6 linked regions of the Homo sapiens genome follow. The protein of the gene in region 6 interacts with the protein of the main gene of each other region in a pairwise test. Each region holds a gene or a part of one and is shown on either strand. Other genes may lie near its edges. The genes, in order: SLC19A3, SLC2A13, SLC7A8, RNF170, TRHR and FXYD6-FXYD2.

What was found.
Region 1: the proteins of FXYD6-FXYD2 (region 6) and SLC19A3 interact in a two-hybrid assay, tested with the Homo sapiens proteins (one large-scale study listed by BioGRID).
Region 2: the proteins of FXYD6-FXYD2 (region 6) and SLC2A13 interact in a two-hybrid assay, tested with the Homo sapiens proteins (one large-scale study listed by BioGRID).
Region 3: the proteins of FXYD6-FXYD2 (region 6) and SLC7A8 interact in a two-hybrid assay, tested with the Homo sapiens proteins (one large-scale study listed by BioGRID).
Region 4: the proteins of FXYD6-FXYD2 (region 6) and RNF170 interact in a two-hybrid assay, tested with the Homo sapiens proteins (one large-scale study listed by BioGRID).
Region 5: the proteins of FXYD6-FXYD2 (region 6) and TRHR interact in a two-hybrid assay, tested with the Homo sapiens proteins (one large-scale study listed by BioGRID).

What each region holds. Positions count from the first base shown.
Region 1 is NC_000002.12:227,683,263-227,687,028, forward strand, and holds the end of SLC19A3 (thiamine transporter 2), read right to left. Parts: 3' UTR 501-3,766; downstream 1-500. UniProt on the Homo sapiens protein: Mediates high affinity thiamine uptake, probably via a proton anti-port mechanism. Has no folate transport activity. Mediates H(+)-dependent pyridoxine transport.
Region 2 is NC_000012.12:39,759,862-39,763,651, forward strand, and holds part of SLC2A13 (proton myo-inositol cotransporter), read right to left. Parts: intron 392-3,790; coding exon 165-391; 3' UTR 1-164. UniProt on the Homo sapiens protein: H(+)-myo-inositol cotransporter. Can also transport related stereoisomers.
Region 3 is NC_000014.9:23,176,910-23,180,699, forward strand, and holds part of SLC7A8 (large neutral amino acids transporter small subunit 2), read right to left. Parts: intron 1-3,790. UniProt on the Homo sapiens protein: Associates with SLC3A2 to form a functional heterodimeric complex that translocates small and large neutral amino acids with broad specificity and a stoichiometry of 1:1.
Region 4 is NC_000008.11:42,852,511-42,855,703, reverse strand, and holds the end of RNF170 (E3 ubiquitin-protein ligase RNF170), read left to right. Parts: 3' UTR 1-2,403; downstream 2,404-3,193. UniProt on the Homo sapiens protein: E3 ubiquitin-protein ligase that plays an essential role in stimulus-induced inositol 1,4,5-trisphosphate receptor type 1 (ITPR1) ubiquitination and degradation via the endoplasmic reticulum-associated degradation (ERAD) pathway.
Region 5 is NC_000008.11:109,117,525-109,120,054, forward strand, and holds part of TRHR (thyrotropin-releasing hormone receptor), read left to right. Parts: intron 1-1,523; coding exon 1,524-1,931; 3' UTR 1,932-2,530. UniProt on the Homo sapiens protein: Receptor for thyrotropin-releasing hormone (TRH). Upon ligand binding, this G-protein-coupled receptor triggers activation of the phosphatidylinositol (IP3)-calcium-protein kinase C (PKC) pathway.
Region 6 is NC_000011.10:117,821,818-117,824,658, forward strand, and holds part of FXYD6-FXYD2 (FXYD6-FXYD2 read-through protein isoform 1 precursor), read right to left. Parts: coding exon of another isoform or gene 2,837-2,841; intron 901-2,836; coding exon 862-900; intron 664-861; coding exon 589-663; intron 1-588. Other genes in the region: FXYD2 (sodium/potassium-transporting ATPase subunit gamma), read right to left, coding at 589-663, 862-900, 2,837-2,841.

The sequences.
Region 1 (3,766 bases), on a different chromosome or scaffold from region 6:
GGGTCATTATTTAAAAAATTTTTTTCATTACTGAGATACCAAATAAAAAATTTTAATTTAATTTTTCAATGTCAGGTCTACTTATTATTATTAATTTTTTTGAGATGGAGTCTCACTATGTTGCCCAGGGTGGTCTTAAACTCCTGGGCTCAAGCGATCCTCCCTCCTCAGCCTCCCAAAGTGGTGGGATTCCAGGAACAAGCCAAGGTGCCCAACCAGGCCCACTTATTTTTTTCTTCTGTTGTTTGTTCCTTTTAATTATAAATGCACATTTAGTAATCCATTCACATTGCCAAAAATATAAAACTATCATAATGGTTGCATGGCAAATCTCCAGCTCCTTATTCTTCAATGCGAATTTATTTCCCAAGAGGTTAAATGCTTTTTTGTAAAAGTCGTATTTTAATTTACTGGTGGGTTATTCATTTGGTGCAAGCATCAAACACCATGAGAATGTGATGTCTCCCTCCCATTTCCCATTACTCCACAGTAGGCAATCATTGGTATGAGTTTCAGTTGTTTATTTATTTGTTTGATTGTTGGTTTGTTTGTTCAAGACAGGGTCTCACTCTGTCATCAGGGCTGGAGTGCAGTGGCATGATCTCAGCTCACTGCAACCTCCACCTCCTGGGCTCAAGCGATCCTCCCTTCTCATCCCCTCAAGTAGCTGGGAGTCCAGGTGCAAGCCACCATGCCCAGCTAATTTTTGTATTTTTTGTAGAGACAGGGTTTTGCCATGTTGCCTAGGCTGGTTTTGAACTCCTGAACTCAAGCAATCCACCTACCTCAGCCTCCCAAAGTGCCAGGATTACAGGCATGAGCCACCGTGCCAGGCCTCATTTGTCTTTTTAGAAAAGTTATACGCATATATAAGCCAATACAGATATTTTTGTCCTTTTTATACAAATGCTGAGTTGCTGCGTTCATTATTATTTTGGTGCTTGACTTTTTTCCACTTGATAGTAGAGCTCTTAGAGTTCTGTGTCACTAAAGATCTTCCTCATTTTTTAGCAGTTAATTTTGTTATAGGTGAATATGTGAAGGAATCATAATGCATTTTTTAATCCACTTTGGGTCTCACTCTGTCGCTCAGGCTGGAGTGCAGTGGCACAATCTCAACTCACTGCAACCTCTGCCTCCTGGGTTTAAGTGACTCTTATGCTTCAGCCACCGAGTGGCTGGGATTACAGGCATGGACCACACCCGGCTAATTTTGTTGTTTTTAGTACATACAGGGTTTCATCATGTTGCCCAGGCTTGCCTCCAATTCCTGGCCTCATGTGATCTGACCGCCTCAGCCTCCCAAAGTGTTGGGATTACAGGCGTGAGCCACTGCACCTGGCCTCCTTTCCAATTTCTGACCTCTGATTTTTCTTGTTTGTCTAATTGTGATGCCTAATGCCTCCAGAATAATAAGTTAAAAAAGAAGGATAATAGACTGGGTGTGAGGTGGCTGAAGCCTGTAATCCCAACACTTTGGGAGACCGAGACGGGCGGATCACCTGAGACCAGGAGTTTGAAACCAGCCTGACCAACATGGTGAAACCCCGTCTCTACTAAATATACAAAAATCAGCCGGGCATGGTGGTGCACGCCTGTAATCCCAGCTACTCGGGAGGCTGAGGCAGGAGAATTGCTTGAACCCGGGAGGCGGAGGTTGCAGTGAGCTGACATTGCGTCATTGCACTCCAGCCTGGGTGACAGAGCAAGATTCTATCAAAAAAAAAAAAAAAAAAAAAAAAAGAAGAAGAAGAAAAAGAATAGCGGCCATTCCTTCCTTGCCTTTAATGTAAGTAGGAATGTTATTAGTTTTCTCCACTAAGTGAGTGCATTGATTCTTGGGCTGGATCTTAGTCCAGTGAAGAATTTCGGGATTTGGAGAGGAGTATACTTGAGAAACATATTAGTCCATTATCACATTGCTATAAAGAAACACCTGAGACTAGATAGTTTGTAAGAAAAGGGGTTTAATTAGCTCACAGGCTATATAGGAAGCGTGGCAACATCTGCTTCTAGGGAGTCCTCGGGGAATTTTTACTCATGGCAGAAGGCAAAGTGGGAGCAGGCATCTTCACGTGGCCAAAGCAGGAGAAAGAGAGAGTGGGGAGGTGCTACACACTTTTAAACTACCAGATCTCACGATAACTCACTGTCATGAGACCAGCACTGAGGGGACGGTGCCAAACCATTCATGAAGGCTTCACACCCATGATCCAGTCGCCTCCCAGCCGGCCCCACCTCTAACATTGGGGATTACACTTCAACGTGAGATTTGGTGGGGACACAGATCCAAACCATATCAAAATCCAATTAAAAATTTTTTTGTTTGTTTTAGACACAGGGTCTTGCTATATTGGCCAAGATGGTCTCATACCCCTACCCTCAAATTAACCTCTCACTTCAGCCTCCCAAAATGCTGGGATTACAGGTGTGAGCCACAGCTTCCAGCCTTAATATAAATCTTGACTCAGCATTCTTTATTCTCACTGTCAGACTGCTCAATGCATCCCTTATTGAAGTTTCTTGAAGTTTCGAAAAACAGGTATGTTCAGATAATTTTCAGCAGAATTCATCAAAAAATGTTAACAACTCTTTAAAATTTTTACACATTTTATTTAGCACAATTGCTACCATTTAAAAATCAGGTGTTTTGGCCAGGCATGGTGGCTCACGCCTGTAATCTCAGCTCTTTGGGAGGCCGAGGCAGACAGATCACCTGAAGTCAGGAGTTTGAGACCAGCCTGGCCAACATTGTGAAACCCCATCTCCACTAAAAATACAAAAATTAGCCAGGCGTGGTGGTGTGCACCCATAGTCCCAGCTACTTGGGAGGCTGAGGTAGGAGAATGGCTTGAACTCAGGAGGTGAAGTTTGCAGTGAGCCAAGATCACGCCATTGCATTCCAGCCTGGGTGAGAGAGCGAGACTGTCTCAAAAACCAAAACAAAACAAAATCAGGTGTTTTATTCCACTCCCCCCATCAGTGTTTTCTTATTTCTAATACTTCTAGAAACCTCCTTTAAGTTTTCCTATTTTAGACAGACACCACACAGGTGCTCTTTTTTGGGAGGAGGGGGATGAGAGTCTTACTCTGTTGCCCAGGCTGGAGTGCAATGGTGCAATCATAGCTCACTGTAGCCTCTGACTCCTGTGCTCAACCCATCCTCCCACCATGGCCTCCCAAGTAGCTGAGACTACAGGCACACACCACGCTGCCCAGCTAATTTTTTAATTTTTTAGTAGAGTCAGGTGTCACTGTGTTGCCCAGGCTGGTCTTGAACCTCTGGCCTCAAGCAAAACTCCCACCTTGGCCTCCCAAATTGCTCGGATTACAGGAGTGAGCCACTGCACCTGGCCCATAGATGCATTAACACCTGTCTATGGTGGTGGAGAGAAGGCTCACTGCCTCTCCCAGGCCACTGGGAAATGACCTTGTGTATTCTGCAAATACACAAGAGGATCTGAAGCTATTCTTGAGGGAGACTTTCAACAGCAAAACTCAGAGCACAAAATGGAAAATAATCATAAAAAAATTAAATAATAATACTATCAAATCATAACGTGAATAATGCTGTTATTAGAGTTGAAGAGAAGCCCTTAGAAATGGGACAAACATTGTAATTCTCTTAGAGAACTGTAACTTAAACAGAAATACACTTAATAGAAGAGGAAAGAAAATGGTTCATGTGACACAAAGGTCCCATGTGTTGACTTCTTTGGTAAGATCAAATAAGTATTTAAGCCTAGCAATAGGGTCAGTCCAGTTA
Region 2 (3,790 bases), on a different chromosome or scaffold from region 6:
TCATCATGGTTGTATCTTCCTCCTAATCAAGTATTCTAGAATATGAAGTCAATCAAAACTAGGCTGTGGAAAGAACCAGATTAGAAGCAGGGCAGTGAAGTCACCAATTGCTGTTCTTCTCCCCCCAGTTTGTTTAAATAACTAAATATATGAGCAGCTGAAAATTATTCCACATCAGAAGCATCATTGTCAGAAAGATGATAGTTACTTCCCTTTACCCGAATATATTCAATATATCTCCCTTCATCAGAATCTGAAGTGCCACATGTACATAGCCTGTTGTCAAAGAGTGATTCAATTTCCTCTAATTTTTTGCCTTTGGTCTCAGGAAGACAGCCATAGATGAAAAGGAGTCCCACAGCAGCAAATCCAGCATAGAGGAAGAAAGCTCCTGCAACGGAATATAATAGATACATGAATATGAATATATAGAGAGAGGCTTAAGTTGGAAAGATTACTTGATTTTGACTTTTTTTTTCTGGTCAGTCATGCATAATCACAGTATGAAATGGACCAAAAAATTACTATGAACCTGGTTTACTCCAATTGTTCCAACTCTGAGAATATGATGTAATGTATCTTTCTAAACTCAAGTTTAGAAACTCAAGAATAATAGAACAGGCTCAGATGTAAGTTTGGCTTTGAAGCCTTTCCTCCCTTCCCTGACTAGAGGGAATTATTCTCTTCCATGTGCTATCACAGCATGTTGTTGAGACCCCTAAAATAACAACCAAGAAATATTATAATTATGTACACACACGTATGCTTGCCTTGTCTATTACACTAGAGGCACTTTGAGGTCAGAAGAAGTTCCTTTCTTAATTTGTTTTTCATTTCCCTCCACTAGAATGTAAACTCCATGAAGTCAGAGAATTTTGTTTTGCTGTAAGATTATGCATGTCAATGCAGAACAGCCAGAAACACATAAATATTAGCTAGTTTGGTTTTCTAAGGGTCATGATAGCAAGCCTAGATGGATGAGATATATGAATGTATGACTTGTTTATATTCTCTACACATTTCCAAGATGGACTTTTAAAATAATTGAATTCCGACCAGCCTGGCCAACATGGTGAAACCTGTCTCTACCAAACACACACACACACACACACATAATTGAATTGCCAATTTGAATATAAGAAACTATACTTGTACTTTTGATGGTGGAAAACAACAAAGTAAAATGGAGCCCCTGTCTAATTTTAGGCTTTCAGTCCAGACCATCATGTGTATGAGATGGGGGAAGTAAGATGAAAAACTAATGTGACAATTGGCTGGAGAAAGGATATCAGACTGGGAGTGGGAAGAACTGAGTTTAAGTGTTGGCCATGTGACTTCTGGATAGTCATTTAACCTCTTCTCTGGGCCTCTGTTGCCTCATTAAGTAAAATAAGGGGGCTTCTCAGCTCCTACTTAAGTGTTGGCAGTTTATGATTCTGTAAATCTTACAGCCAAAATCAGGGGCATGTATAGGAGATATAGTTAAGAGATGGTTGAGAGAGAGACTTGATCTGTGTAATGGGGAAAATAATTCTAGCTTTGCCCAACTGTAAAGAATAGAAATAATGTATGTTATCATGCCCATTAGAATTCTGAATATCAGTTGCTCAAAAAAGTGATGCCCAGATTGTTAAATTCTACTAAATGACCAGGAAAGGAAGAGTTGCTATTAAGATACAGAATAAGATTAGTGTGACTAATTAATTGGGATGTTTTTACAAAAAGGGTGATACTGATAAGCTAGCTCTTGGAGAATGGGGGAATTTTGACAAAAAAAAAATGAAAGGAGATGAAGTCCTGTGTTCTGAGTACAGATATGCAAGACTGTGGAGGTAGGAAGAGAAATGGAATCTTTAGCAGGGAGGGACAAAGACGGGATAGTAATTATGATGAAGATAAAGAAAAAATAAGTACAGATGGTAAAACATTTTAGATTAAACTAGGCTTCTAAACTACAAAATCTGTAACAGCAAACCCAGTTTGACTTTTAAATATAATAGTATATTTTATCTTCATCATTATCTTTCACAATTTGGGAACAGTAGCATAATTAGAAGTAACAAATCAAATCTGTCAGCGCTAAACTCACTCCTATAGTTAAAAAACATTTGTTGGGTTAGGAAGATTCCTGAAGTTGATTACAGATTCTTTCTTGTGACCTGGATTCCCAAAGCTGAATAATATCAAGGAATTGCTATTAAAATACAAGACCGTTTTACAAAATCTGAGGAATCCAAAGCACGCAAATGCCAAAACTGCCTACTCAGTGTGGGTTCCAATGGTTAGACCTGTGGCTAAGTCGTGGAGGAGTGTGGGCAGACCTGGGAGGCTGTGACCTGGTCCATGTCATGGTCAAATCAGTCACTATCTCAGTTTCTCATTTATTCCTCCCTTGGAGTGAAAATGGCAAGAAAAAATGTCTGTAACGAGTCCATCAGGACTATTGAACAGTTAGATATTCCTCACCTTTATTCTTCTAAGGATTTAAATCTTATTAGAGCCCTACATTAAGTTCCAGATTAAAACAACTATTTAATTGAATTACACAAATTGACTACCTCAAGAGAGAAGCTTTGACATAATGCCCCCCAAGGGATCTCTTTAGCCACATGTGCTGTATATAAAATGGCATATTGGTGATATAGCAATGATACTTTTTAGTAATAAACATTATTGAATGGGGGCACAAGGCAGACCTGTGTAAGCAATATGGTTGAGGAAGGAATCAAATTTTGAGATCTTATGAAACAATAAAAAAGGAGGCAACAAAGAAGACATAACTATTTCCAGAGGAATACACGATTAGGATGTATATTTATTAAATGAGGAATATAAATGCATAGCTTACATAAACCAGTAACATGTGGATTAAAATGAGACACAAAAAGGGAGAAAAACTAGCCTGAATGAACTATTTTTCTACTACTAGAGAGTAGTAGACCAAATGGACCAGTGCTCTGACATGAGAGAAGCTTAATGCAAAGCAACACACTTTTAACTGTTTATTTTTGAAAGAATTCTGCTTATGCCCTATTTAAATTTCATTACTGTTGCCTCATTTTTCTCTGGTTTTCTGGCAGGATAAATTCAAGAAAGAGGAGCTTTGCTGTCAAAAGTATAATCATGTAAACTTTTATTATTTGGTCTATGCCTTTCTATGAAAAATGCTTTCTCAGGATGCGAGCATATACTTAGGTCTTCAAATATTTAAGTGTTCTCTAGAATCAGTAAATACGAGGAAATATTTATTGTGCTCGTATTTATTATGTCATGAAGATAAGTTTATGAATTTATCGAAAAATTTTAATTGCCAAATGGGATCCAGCTGAATATACTAAATATATATCCAGTTTAAAATGCCAGTGCATTTCCTTTCCAAGAAAATAAATATTTCAAATGTCTTAAGTGGTGATTAGGAGAGAGAAGAGTTTTATGAAGATAATAAAAGCATTAGATAAATACCATTAACTAAAAGCAAATACCAGTTCAGCATGGTCAGAAGAGATGGGGAATAGATTTTTATAATGTTTCATCATATTCACCATTCATCTGCAAAATTTATCCATGTATTTATTCATTTGACAAACACTTTTTGGTGCTTATCAGGTGAACAGGATGCCTTGGCAGGAACTGGGAATGTAACAATGAACAAGGCACAGTCCTGGCCCTCCAGGGATTTATAGTCTACTAGAGAGAGCTAAGGGCAGACAAACCTGTTCTTGCAAAGAGAAATGATAAGTGGCCAGAGCACAGAGTAAAGAGATTGCGGGGAGATGAGAGAAGCTCTTCT
Region 3 (3,790 bases), on a different chromosome or scaffold from region 6:
CCAGCCTGGGCGACAGAGCAAGACTCTGTCTCAAAAAAAAAAAAAAAAAAAAAATTGGGATTTAGTAAGAGCTCAATAAATACTATTTTAAAAAATCATGTTAGTTGGGAGATAGTGGTCTAGTAGCTAGATCAGCATCCAGTATTGTTCTGTAGCAAATATACCAAGATCCCCCAAAAACATAAATTGTGCTGAAAACAAAATGGTCTGACATTATATACTTTTTAATTTTATTATTACAGCTCTCTGGCCAGCTTTTTCACCTTTGTTAAGTTTAGCTGAAAGCTGCCTCCTTACATATTTTAAATTCCACTTAAAGATTTCTCCATATGTAGTGAAACGTAACCTAACTGGATGTGTAAATAGACTGTAACCTACTTTTGTACCATTCACTGAGTTTCAGCCAATCAAAGGCAGCCAACTGTCCAACCCTTGTTCAAATAAGGAAAATGTAGAGCTGTAACTAATCAAGCTGTTTCTGTACCTTGCTTCTATTTCCTGTATGTCACTTGCCTTTTTCTGCCCATAAATCTTCTTCGACCATGAGGCTGCCCCAGAAACTCTGAATCAGTTCTGGTTCAAGAGGCTGCCTGATTCACAAATTGTTCTTTGCTCAATTAAACACTGTTAAATTTAATTTGTTTAAGGTTTTCCTTTTAATGCCTTCAAGACACAGATTCTGGTTACATACCTAGATACGTGACTGGTATAAAGTACCTAAATGGCCAGGAACTCTGTGGGTACCTCTAACACGGCTGGGAAGAACACTGGTCCATAAAGGAAAGGTGTGCATGTGCAGGAATGAATGCGAGCATGGTCTGTGCTGGCCAGATGCCCCTCAGGCTCACCCAAGTCTTCCTGCAATTGCACCGGGAATATTACTTTCTTCCACTCCCAGCTGACAGCCCAGCTCCCCTGCTATACTGGGAGTCTTCCTCACTGGGAACACAAAATTAATTGCTATACAATAAGTATTCATTCATCTATAAAAATGAATAAGGACCTCTGTCCAGATTCTAAAAGAAAATACTCCTTTAGGAGATAAAAATAGAAATAGTGAAGAATAATGCTTACAAGCTTGATTCAGGATGCAGACAAGCTCTGGGTTTGAATCCTAGCTCCAATATTTTTTAGTTGTGTGACCTTCAGCAAAGTTGCTTACCCCTTTGAGCCTTTATTTCCTATCTGGAGGAAGAGGTAATAAAGTGTCTACCAAATGAGTTACTGTGAATGACAAATAAGTTCAGGTATGTTAGGTAATTGGATGAGTACCTGGCATATACTAAGTGTTTAATAAACACAGCTATTAACAGTAGCTCTGGTATCATTAATAAATGAACTTTGCTGTCCTCCGCACCCTCTTTCGACTTTGGGGGGAACTCCACGTTCATGGTGAAATCTAAATTAATATGCTGCCAACAGGTTTCCTTAGCCAAGTACATGGAGAACAAAAGCCTGATTAGGTTAGGACAAGGATGATGTTAAAAGATTAAAATGGGCCAACCTAATTGTCCAGGTTGATAAAACTACTCCTAGCTTAAAGATTTTCAAGCCAGGTTCCCAGCAGCCCTGCAGATAAATGTTTCCTATTCATATTTTTGTCCTAGAGTCGGTTAAATTCAACAATCATTTGAGTAAGTATTCCTTAGCAGGCATTCTGTTAAACACTAAAGATTCAGAAACATATAAGACACTTGCTTTTTTTTTTTAAGAGGCAAGGTTTTGTTGGGCACGGTGGCCCACACGTGTAACCCCAACACTTCGGGAGGCTGAGGCAGGAGGATTGCTTGAGCCCAGGAGTTCAAGATAGCCTGGGCAACATAGGGAGACCCTGTCTCTAAAAAAAATTAAAAATAATTTTAAAAATTATTAAGCTACTTGGGAGGCTGAGGTGGGAGAATTGCTTTCGAGGCTGCAGTGAGCTATGATTGCACCACTGTACTCCAGCCTGGTTAACAGAGTGAGATCTTGTCTCCAAAAAAAAAAAAAAAAAAAAAAAATGAAGATGAGGTCTTGCTCTGTTGCCTAGGCTGGCTTGAAACTCCTGGGCTAAAATGATCAAGGAGATGGGACTACAGGTATCCACCACCACACCTGGCTCAATTTTTCTCATAGTTCAATTTTTTTTTACGGACACAATCTTTGATCTAGGAAATAACAGTTTAGTCATTATGCTTTTACCTAAGAAAACTCCCAGAATCAGCTCCCCTACTTCATCTTCTCCTCAAAGCCTTCAAGATGCTTCTTAATCTAGTTCTTAGTAAGAACCTCTCTCTCCTGGCTTCCCACCATTCACATAACTTTGCCCTACTTTAGCTCTTTCACAACTAAACCATGTCATTAATTTTGAATGTTCTCTGTTTAGTACATATGCATCTCATCCTCCCAATCAGGATATAAGGAACTCTCTGGCATAAGTCTTCTATTAATTCATTGTATATTTCCATAACACCTACCATTCTGTTATCCTTGCTTTCAATCATCCATGTTGATTGTGAATGAAATTTTACAAAACATGTAGTTTAAATTATCCCTCTTAGTCAGTAAGGTATGAGAGAGATAGATTTAGGGCAAATGTAACTTTGCCACAGTCCCTGAAAAAAAAAAAAAGATCTGGGGGCCGGGCACGGTGGCTCATGCCTGTAATCCCAGCACTGATAGGCCGAGGTGGGAGGATTTCTTGAGCCCAGGAGTTGGAGACCAGCCTGGGCGATACAGTGAGACCCTGTTTCTACAAGAAAAAATTTAAAATAGCTAGGTGTCGTGGTGTATGCCTGTGGTCACAGCTACTGAGGAAGCTGAGGTGGAAGGATCGCTTGAGCCCAGGAGTTTGAGGCTGCAGCGATGCAGTGAGCACGCCACAGCACTCCAGCCTAGGCAACACAGCGAGACACTGTCTCAGAAAAAAAAGAAAGAAAGAAAGAAAGATGGGACAAATTCTACTTTTCCATAACATGTCTCCTGATTCACTTAGAAAACTTCCTTTCTCTTTTTGACTTTTTTTTTTTTTTTTTGAGATGGAGTCTCACTCTGTCACCCAGACTGGAGTGCAGTGGCGCAACCTTGGCTCACTGCAACCTCTGCCTTCTGGGTTCAAGCAATTCTCCTGCCTCAGCCTCACGAGTAGCTGGGACTACAGGCATGCGCCACGACGCCCGGCTAATTTTTTGTATTTTTTAGTAGAGACGAGGTTTCACCGTGTTAGCCAGGATGGTCTTGATCTCCTGACCTCGTGATCCGCCCGCCTTGGCCTCCCAAAGTGCTGGGATTACAGGTGTGAGCCACCGCACCCGGCCCTTTTTTTGCCTTTTAGTTCTCTTTTTTTCTGCAGTGTTGACATTGGACACCAGATCCCTGAAATCTACACAGAAAATGCCATTTCTATTTTTGCATTTGGTCTTGAAAACACTTGAATCACGATCATCCACTGAGAAACTTCTCCAGAAGAGGAAAGGGCAGTTCCTCAGCACATCTGTGACTCAACAGCAACTCGGGAGGGGAAGCAGAATGGATTTTGTCCCCTGTTATCATCTTAAAGGGGAAATTTGTTTCTAGCTTAAGTTGGGGTAGAATAGTGCCTATTAACTCTACAAGGATTCTCATGTTTTGCAAAAATATCCCAATTTCTCTGAAATCACATATTTGGAATCTCTTTTCATCACAGAACACCAGAATTGCCATTCTAGTTACTGTAATGCCACCATGGGGAGCTTTGAGATTATTCTCCCATTGAAGTACCATCCATAAGGTTGTGGACAAATCAGTAGTAACATATACCCACAGAAATTGT
Region 4 (3,193 bases), on a different chromosome or scaffold from region 6:
GGAAAATTCAGTATTTCTTTTAGTGCTAGCTAAGTTTTGTGCATTTGGAGCAGTTCTGCCTTTTCATTCTGGTATAATTAATTATTTGCTATCAGCTGAAACTGAAAGAAGAAACTTGAACTTCATACTTCGATATCATATTCTAGTTTACAGAACACATTTTAATCAATAGAAGAATTAAGATGAAAAACATGGCCGGGCGGGGTGGCTCACGCCTGTAATCCTAGCACTTTGGGAGGCTGAGGCGGGTAGATCACAAGGTCAGGAGATCAGGACCATCCTGGCTAACATGGTGAAACCCCGTCTCTACTAAAAATACAAAAAATTAGCCAGGCGTGGTGGCAGGCGCCTGTAGTCCCAGCTACTCGGGAGGCTGAGGCAGAAGAATGGCGTAAACCCAGGAGGTGGATTGCGCCACTGCACTCCAGCCTGGGCAACAGAGTGAGACTCCCTCTCAAAAAAAAAAAAAAAAAAGATGAAAAACATTTATCTCCAGTCAGCACACTTGATGTTCACAGTTAGACATTTAAACAAGAGCTCATCCTTTCGTAGTAGATATAAAAGTAATTTGTAAAGGGAAGATTGTTTTAGGAACCTGGGCGATGCTGCAAACACAGAGTAGCCTGATGCATTTCTGAGGAAGGTGAATCTTCGTGTCTTTGAGCATCAAGCCAATAGGAAGGTACTGGGAACGGTATTTACATTTGACAAAAGAAATTACTGGTTAGCTATAGCAACAGATTGGACAAATTTTGTTAGTTTTCTGTTGTCAGAAATTTTTATAATACTGTCTCAGGATGGCAGCACACAGCTCAGATTCATGTCTTGAGCCAAACAAGTGAATGTATCTGAGAAGACTCAGTACCACATGGTACTGGGAGATCTTACTCACTTCAGCTGGCGTTGCTCATTAGTGAATGTATGACAGCAGGATGTGAGGGGATGCCCAGGAGTCAGTGTTAGCATTGTCATCTGAGATCACTGCTATTAATATCATCCATTAATTTATTAGTGAGCTTCACTATATGCAGACTGGGAGATAAGGAGAAAATCTGTCACATTCTCTCTAGCTAATCAGATCAGCTACCAATTAATGAGATTCTGAATGAAATATCAATATGTGTTTTTCTAATTTGGACCTAGGACAGAGCTGTTGCTTGTCATAGAGAAAAACAATAATGCTTAAACATAGCACATTATAATTAAAGCAGGTTTCTCACATACTTTTCATTTTATCCTTTGGATAATTTTGTGAGGAACGCAGGACACCAACTTCCCTTTCATAGATACAATCCCCATGCTATTGATGAAAGTGTTTTTGAATGAAGTCATACAACAAATAACTGATCAAAGTGGCATTACACCAAAATTTCTTAGTAGGACTCCTGCATAGAATGTTTAGATAGACGTGAAAGTTGTTAAGAGGAACAGCAAGAGAGAAACTGGTTCTTTGGAAGTCTTTCGTGCTACATTATACCTCCATCAGAGTAAGACAGCTTAGGCACTCCTAAGAGGAAAGGTCTGTGGAGATGACATGAATCCGAATTCTACACTTCCAAATCAAATAGGTAAAAGGGTGGCATACATCACAGAAAAACATTTCAGCTGCAGTCACCAACTTGAAAAGCGAGTGAGTAGGAGTTTGTCACACTGCCATGTACCAGACTGGAAATGCATTTCCTACCAATTACACATTTGGTGTGGGGGAATGGTGATGTCATTTTTTGACAGGATTTTATTTTGTGTGCATGCATTCTGCTCCAAGTGTCACAATTCTGGTTACAATAATTATAATATTTGGAGTTACTACTAAGACTTTCCTGAAAGAGGTGTATTGTACCAAATTTTGTAACATAAAAAAATACTAAATGATCTTAAAGCTTCCTAAATTGTGAAAAGGGTATGTGCTAACATCTCAGAACTTTAGACCTGCTTGTTGTCATCTTTACCGATCTCTGATGATAAATGCAGAAGGGATCTGAGAGTTTTTAAAGCAAGTAGAGTCAATCAGAGTTTTGAACATCATAGTAATACTTCCGTGATTCAGAGTTAGATCATATAAATCAAAGTAACAATTTGGATTTTTTTTAAACAACAATATCATAACTGTCATAAAACAGATGGTCCAACCCCAGGAGCAGATAATAACTTGGGCAGCTCTGTGGGGAACAAGACGGGGAAAACAACTGTTCTAACTGCCCACTAGAACAGTGGTTTCAACTACTACAATTCTCAGTGTTTGAGAGGTACAAGGGAAGAAAGGACTATGTGGATCCCTTGTGGCTATGCAGATACCTACCTCACAGAGTTGTTGTAGAAGACTGGTGGTTTGGTTCAAACCTTGTGATTAAAGAGTTTGTCAAGCATTTTATTCTTTTGAATAAAAGCAACATATCTAAAACATTTTAAAGGTGTTATTTTTCTGTTTATTTAACAGTTGTTTGCTTTCAGAACTCCTGAAAGAGCATTCAGTATAATGGTTGCAACGGCTTTATCACTAATGGACATCCAATATCTCATCACATTTCTAATTAATTTTGTTAGGTTTTTTATTTTGTTTGTGTGTTTGTTTTTTGGTCAGAGACAGGGTCTCACTCTTGCCCAGGTTGGAGTGCAGTGTTACAATCATAGCTGACTGCAGCCTCGAATTCCTGGGCTCCAGTGATCCTCCTGTCTCAGCCTCCCAAGTAGCTGGGACTATAGATGTGTGCCATCACACCTGGCTAATTAAAAAAAAAAAAAAAAAAGTTTGTAGATACATGGTCTGGCTGTGTTGCCCAGGCTGGTCTAAAACTCCCAGGCTCAGCCTTCCAAAGTGCTGGGATTACAGGTGTGAACCACCATGCCCAGTGCTGAAAATTATTTTTCTATTAAGCAAATAAATTAATTTGCAGACCACAGTGAAAATTTAGTCACGGAGATGTTTTACAAAGAAAAATTCAACATTCAGTTCAATGCAACAAATTTTGTTTTAAATTATATGAAATTCTGCTGGACGCAGTGGCTCACACCTGTAATCCCAGCATTTTGGGAGGCCAAGGCGGGCAGATCACAAGGTCAGGAGTTTGAGACCAGCCTGGCCAACATAGTGAAACCCCGTCTCTACTAAAATACAAAAATTAGCCAGGTGTGGTGGCACGCACCTGTAGTCCCAGCTACTTGGGAGGCTGAGACAGGAGAATCGCTTGAACCT
Region 5 (2,530 bases), on a different chromosome or scaffold from region 6:
ACCCCTGACAGGGAGTGGGAGAATGTTGACAAGTGTGAAGCAGTGATCTGATTTCAGAGTGCCTGGAGTACCAAGCAGAGAATAAAGGCAAGGGTGTGGTTCATAATGACGAAGATCATGGTGATGATGACAATGAAGATGATAATCACTACATCTCCTTCCAAAGCTTAGAACATTTATCACTTTGATTTCCTATGACTAATTATTTACTTATATATATTTTTTAAAGTCTACTTAGGAAAAATCATGTTTCAGTTAACCCCTTTGCTAAGTAGACCCTCTTTGGCTCTAAAAGAAGTCAGAATCTCTGGAATGTCTTAGTTGGTATTATATGAACCAGTGTGAAATCACATATTCTCACTGAACAATTTTTCTACTCCTAGTGGTAAGATACGTAGCCTTAATATCCTACATACATTGAGTCAGAATGAAGCTCAGTGAACAGTGAGCAATCTGGGATATTGACCTCATCCTACCTATTGTCTTACTTCCTGTGCATTGCTTATACTTAGGAGTGGCTTCAGCATTAGGTAAAATTCCAGCATTTGCTTTCTCTCTCTTTCACTTCCCTTTAACCTGAAAGAGTGCAAAAGCTTTGAATTCAAGCTCACTTGGACAGTAATCCCAGCCCTGAGACTCTACAGCTTCCACCAAAGTACTTAACAGCCTCTGTACCTGTTTTCTAATTTGAAAAAGTAGTGGGTACAATACCTATTTTAGGAGGTTTAAAACTTTTTAAACATGGTAACAAATAAACACCTTGGATAGTGTCTGGCACATAGCAGTCACTAAACATTCAATAAACACTGACTTTTTTGCATTATTCTTTTCATGCACTGTTACCTCATTTGATTTAGGAGGGCAATGTTGGCTCCATTTTACAGATGAGCTATAAGATAGGTTAAGATAATTTCTTAGGCCACACATAGGGTAAGTAAGGAAAGGATTTGACCCTAAGTCTCCTAATGCTTGTCACAGACACTTTTGGTGCCCTGTGCTAACATTCTCTTACAAGACTCTGATTTCAGCCATAGCTGCAGTAGATGGTTCCTGCAGTGGGAAATATCCCACTTCAGGCATCCACTGTACCATTTGTCTCTCCTCTTCTTGGCCTCAAGTGTCTCTCTAAAGGCCCTAGGAGTTTTCAGGCAAGAGAATCCTGGAAGTACACAGGAGTTAAAGTCCTTAACAATATCCTTTAATGAATGGACGCTGGCATTCATTCTCTTACTTCTGACAGATAATTCTCAATTGCATTACTTGAGCCAGAGTTGGCTATAGGGGGAGCTATCTCAATAACACACTGCTTTGGCTTTTCCTACTTTGGCTTTTCCTTGTCTATAGCATTCTAATTGATAACCCTTAATCCTGCTTCCTGGGATCACCTCCCCAATAAATGACCTGCACCTAACTCCTTGTCTCAGACTACATTTTGGGAACTAAAGGTTTGGGTGAGAGAAGAAAGGGGGTTTTGTTTTGTTTTCATTTGTGTTTGTACAGCATTTCTCTCTATTTCTCCCTAGGTCACCAAGATGCTGGCAGTGGTTGTAATTCTGTTTGCCCTTTTATGGATGCCCTACAGGACTCTAGTGGTTGTCAACTCATTTCTCTCCAGTCCTTTCCAAGAAAATTGGTTTTTGCTCTTTTGCAGAATTTGCATTTATCTCAACAGTGCCATCAACCCGGTGATTTACAATCTCATGTCCCAGAAATTCCGTGCAGCCTTCAGAAAGCTCTGCAACTGCAAGCAGAAGCCAACAGAGAAACCTGCTAACTACAGTGTGGCCCTAAATTACAGCGTCATCAAGGAGTCAGACCATTTCAGCACAGAGCTTGATGATATCACTGTCACTGACACTTACCTGTCTGCCACAAAAGTGTCTTTTGATGACACCTGCTTGGCTTCTGAGGTATCCTTTAGCCAAAGTTGATTCATGAATTAGAAGAAAATGGATGACAAAGAAAATGAGAATCTGTGCAGTCATCAACAAAAGGGAGAACATGGCCAATAGTCATATGTGAAGACAGAGCAGATCAGTCTTTGTCAATGCTCTAACAAATTCTGGCCCTAGATACTTTAACCCATGAGGATGATTCAGACTTTCCTTCTTACAAACTAATATCACTAAAAATGGAGCAGATCTGTGAAATAGCTAAATGATGGAAACTTAAAGTTTAGCCCTTTTCATTTAACTTAAGAAATTCACTATATTTTCTGGACTTATAGAGTTTCAATAAAATCTAGACATCAATTTACATTATTCATAGTAACCTTATCAAATGTCACTTTTCAACTTCCCTAATTTATTTATACATTCGATAATTTGACAACATGCAGATTTTTAAATGTTTGCATTTAGTATTCATTTTAACATAGTACAGGGCTAGTTCATGAATATCTGAAATTAAAGGGAAAAATATTACAGAAACATTTTATTTATTGAGTAAAAATAAGATTTTAGACATACATGTTAACTGTATTTTAAAAGTTGCCATAATGTTTATAAAATTCTGAGATGATTTTTATATC
Region 6 (2,841 bases):
CCCACAGGTGTGCTTGCTGTATCTTCTTTCCATGGGTTGTGTTTTCTGTGTATTTTTCTTTGGGTTGGACCAAAACAAGTCAATGTGCAGTTATTAAGCTCCTGCTGTGTGCCCCTCGGGGCTTGAGGATACATAACTCTCTTTGTCTCCCCCAGAACACTCCGAGTCTGCACTGGACCGTTCTCAGAGCGCTGTCCTGACTGCCATGTCTTTGGATGCTAGCCCTAATCTTGTGAGGCAGGTGGGATCATCCCTATTTAACAAATGAGTTTGGGACCATGGTTAGCAGCGGGGGGCCTAGTCCCCCTGTCTGGCCCTCCGGTTACCCAGTTACCCCGTGGGTTTGCTCTCACTTCTGCGGCTCCTCCCGGGCCCACTGGAGGGTGCACTTGAGCAAGCAGGAACCTCACACTGTGCTCCCAGCGAGCCTGGCACCCCACCGGGCACCCATTCCCACATCCTGCAGTGGGGGGCGTGGTGGGGAGGCTCACCCCTCCCTTGGCAACTCCCGAAAGCCAGCCTGCTCAGCGGCCTTGAGAAGAGAGGTGCCCTGGTCAGCACCCCTTCCCTGGAGGCCACCCCACTTACTGAGGAGGATGAGGAGCCCCACGATGAAGGCCAGTCCAGCGAAGATCAGGCCCCCATTGCGAACGGTCTCATAGTCTCCGGAAAGAGAGGGCAAGAGGAGCGGGATGGGTGGTCTCTCCCAGCAGCTGTCTCTCTCCGCAGCCTGCCCGCAGCAGCCCGTGGTAACCAGGGGAGATAAGGGGCACAGAGCATGGACCTGGGGCTGGGAGAGGCCGCTGCTTGGTGGAAGGGGTCCTGAGGGCTCAGGAAGGGTGCGCAGGGGCCCAGGCTTACCATAGTAGAACGGGTCCACGTCCCCCTTGGGGCTGCCGCCTAGGAGAGAGCCAGAGGTGGGATGAGAGGAGTCACCGATGGTGAGCCAGCCACAGGAACAGCTGGAATTCCCTGTCCTTCCCTTCCCAGAGGACCCTCGAGGGTCCAAGCAGGCGAGGGGAGGCTGGGAGCAGGGGTGTTGCTAAAACCATTGCCAGCAGGCTTCTGCTCCAGGCGGCTTCAGACACGCTCAACTGGGGACCAAATACCGAGTGTCCGAGGGGGATCCGTGCTGTCTGGGGGGCCTCTGACCACTCCGGAAGGGTGGCTCTCTCCTGCTCCTTGATTCCTACCATGGTAGAAAAGGCCAGGAGAAGCCTCTCCCATTAGACTCCCAGCGGCCTCTCTCCACAGGACCATTTGGCTATCAGGTGCTTAGCAGCTATTTGGGAAATGCATGAATAAATAAAACAGAACCTTAAAGTTTATCAGACAGAAGGAGGAAGCCGAGCCCAATGTGTAGACTTGTTCAAAGTCCTAATGAAAGCTGAGACAGACCTCCTTTCCTGCGTTACCATCCTCAGGGGAAGCAGATCTAGTTAAGAAACATTAATATATAGTGCTGGTCAGGCACCGGGCAAAAACTAACAAACCCTAACTCATCTAACCATTATGGCAACCTTATGAGGCGTCAATGTCATTCTGGTGTAATCCACAAGAGGGTGGAAGTGCAGAGAAGAAATTCCCCCACAGTTATACAGCAAGTCAGGGGTAGAGCTGGTGTTTGAACCCAGGAAGCAGGGGGCTGAGAATGGAGGTGCATAAGCCCTTTGATCTGCCACCTCTCAATGGCGGGAGGGAAGGAGCCCGTTAGAGGTAAGGTCCTGCCCCTGCCTCTGGTGGCCTCCCCCGGATTTGGAGCCGCTCAGCAGGCAGGTCTCACAGTGGTGCCCTGCAACTGAGTACACTTGCCCCGGACAGCCAGACGGTGGCCTGGCCAGGACGCTTCTGCCACAGCTAAGGGCCGCTACTCTTTCCTGCCCTGCCGGAGCCCCTTCTCGCACGAGGGAAGTGGAGCCCGAGGAGGAAGGAACGCGCAAGTTAGCACTTTCCGGGCTGTGCCAAACTGTGCCCCTGAGCAGCAGTGAGACTTAGGGTCTGTCAAGCCCAGCTGTCCCCAGCGGCCAGTCCCTGGGCCAGGAAAGGACAGGCCAGGAAGAGTCAGTGCCCATCCTGACGGGCCTGAGGTGCTGGGTGCTCAGGGAGGCCATGAAGGACCCAGGTCCCACACAGAAGGCCGTCAGGGCTGTCTTCCCAGATTTGGTTCAGGCCTTGTTTAAGGTCATATGGGGATTTAAGTGTCAGAGCAACAGCTAGACGCCAGCTGAGGCTTCCCCACACGCCCCAGGAAACCTCCTCCTCCGTGGCCACCTGGCCCTGAGCCGCTTGCTGAGACCCTCCCTGCCCAGCACCCTCCCCTTTCTGCATCTGGCTCAAAACCCACCTCTGTCAGCAAGTGCCCCTCTTGGTTTCCAGGCCTGAGTCAGTTCCTGTGACAGGAAGCCTTTGGAGAGTGTGACTTGAACTTGGCGGGCTCTCACCCCAAATCCAGCCTAGGAAGGCTGACCAGAGGGGCCTGCTCCTTCCCCAGCCAGATGGACGCCGTCTGCCTCCCGCCCAAGTTCAGACGGTCTAGCAAGATGCATTGAACTCAGGGCGGGTGTGTGCCAGGAGGCCGAGGAGGAACGCTCAGCTCTCCAGCTTCTATCTGCTGCCTTTCTGCCACTCAAGCTATCTTTCTTTGGGGTTAAAGCAGGGTCCTCCTTTAAGTTGCAAATTTTCTTAGAGAGGAGGCCGACAGGAAGAGGGGCTGGGTACTCTGGAAGGCTGAGGTGGCAGGAGAGGGAAGAGTAGGGTCCAGCTGACCCCACAAAGGCAGGCCAATCAGAGCCACCCAGCATTGCACACGCCCGGGCACGCACACCAGCACACTCACCACCG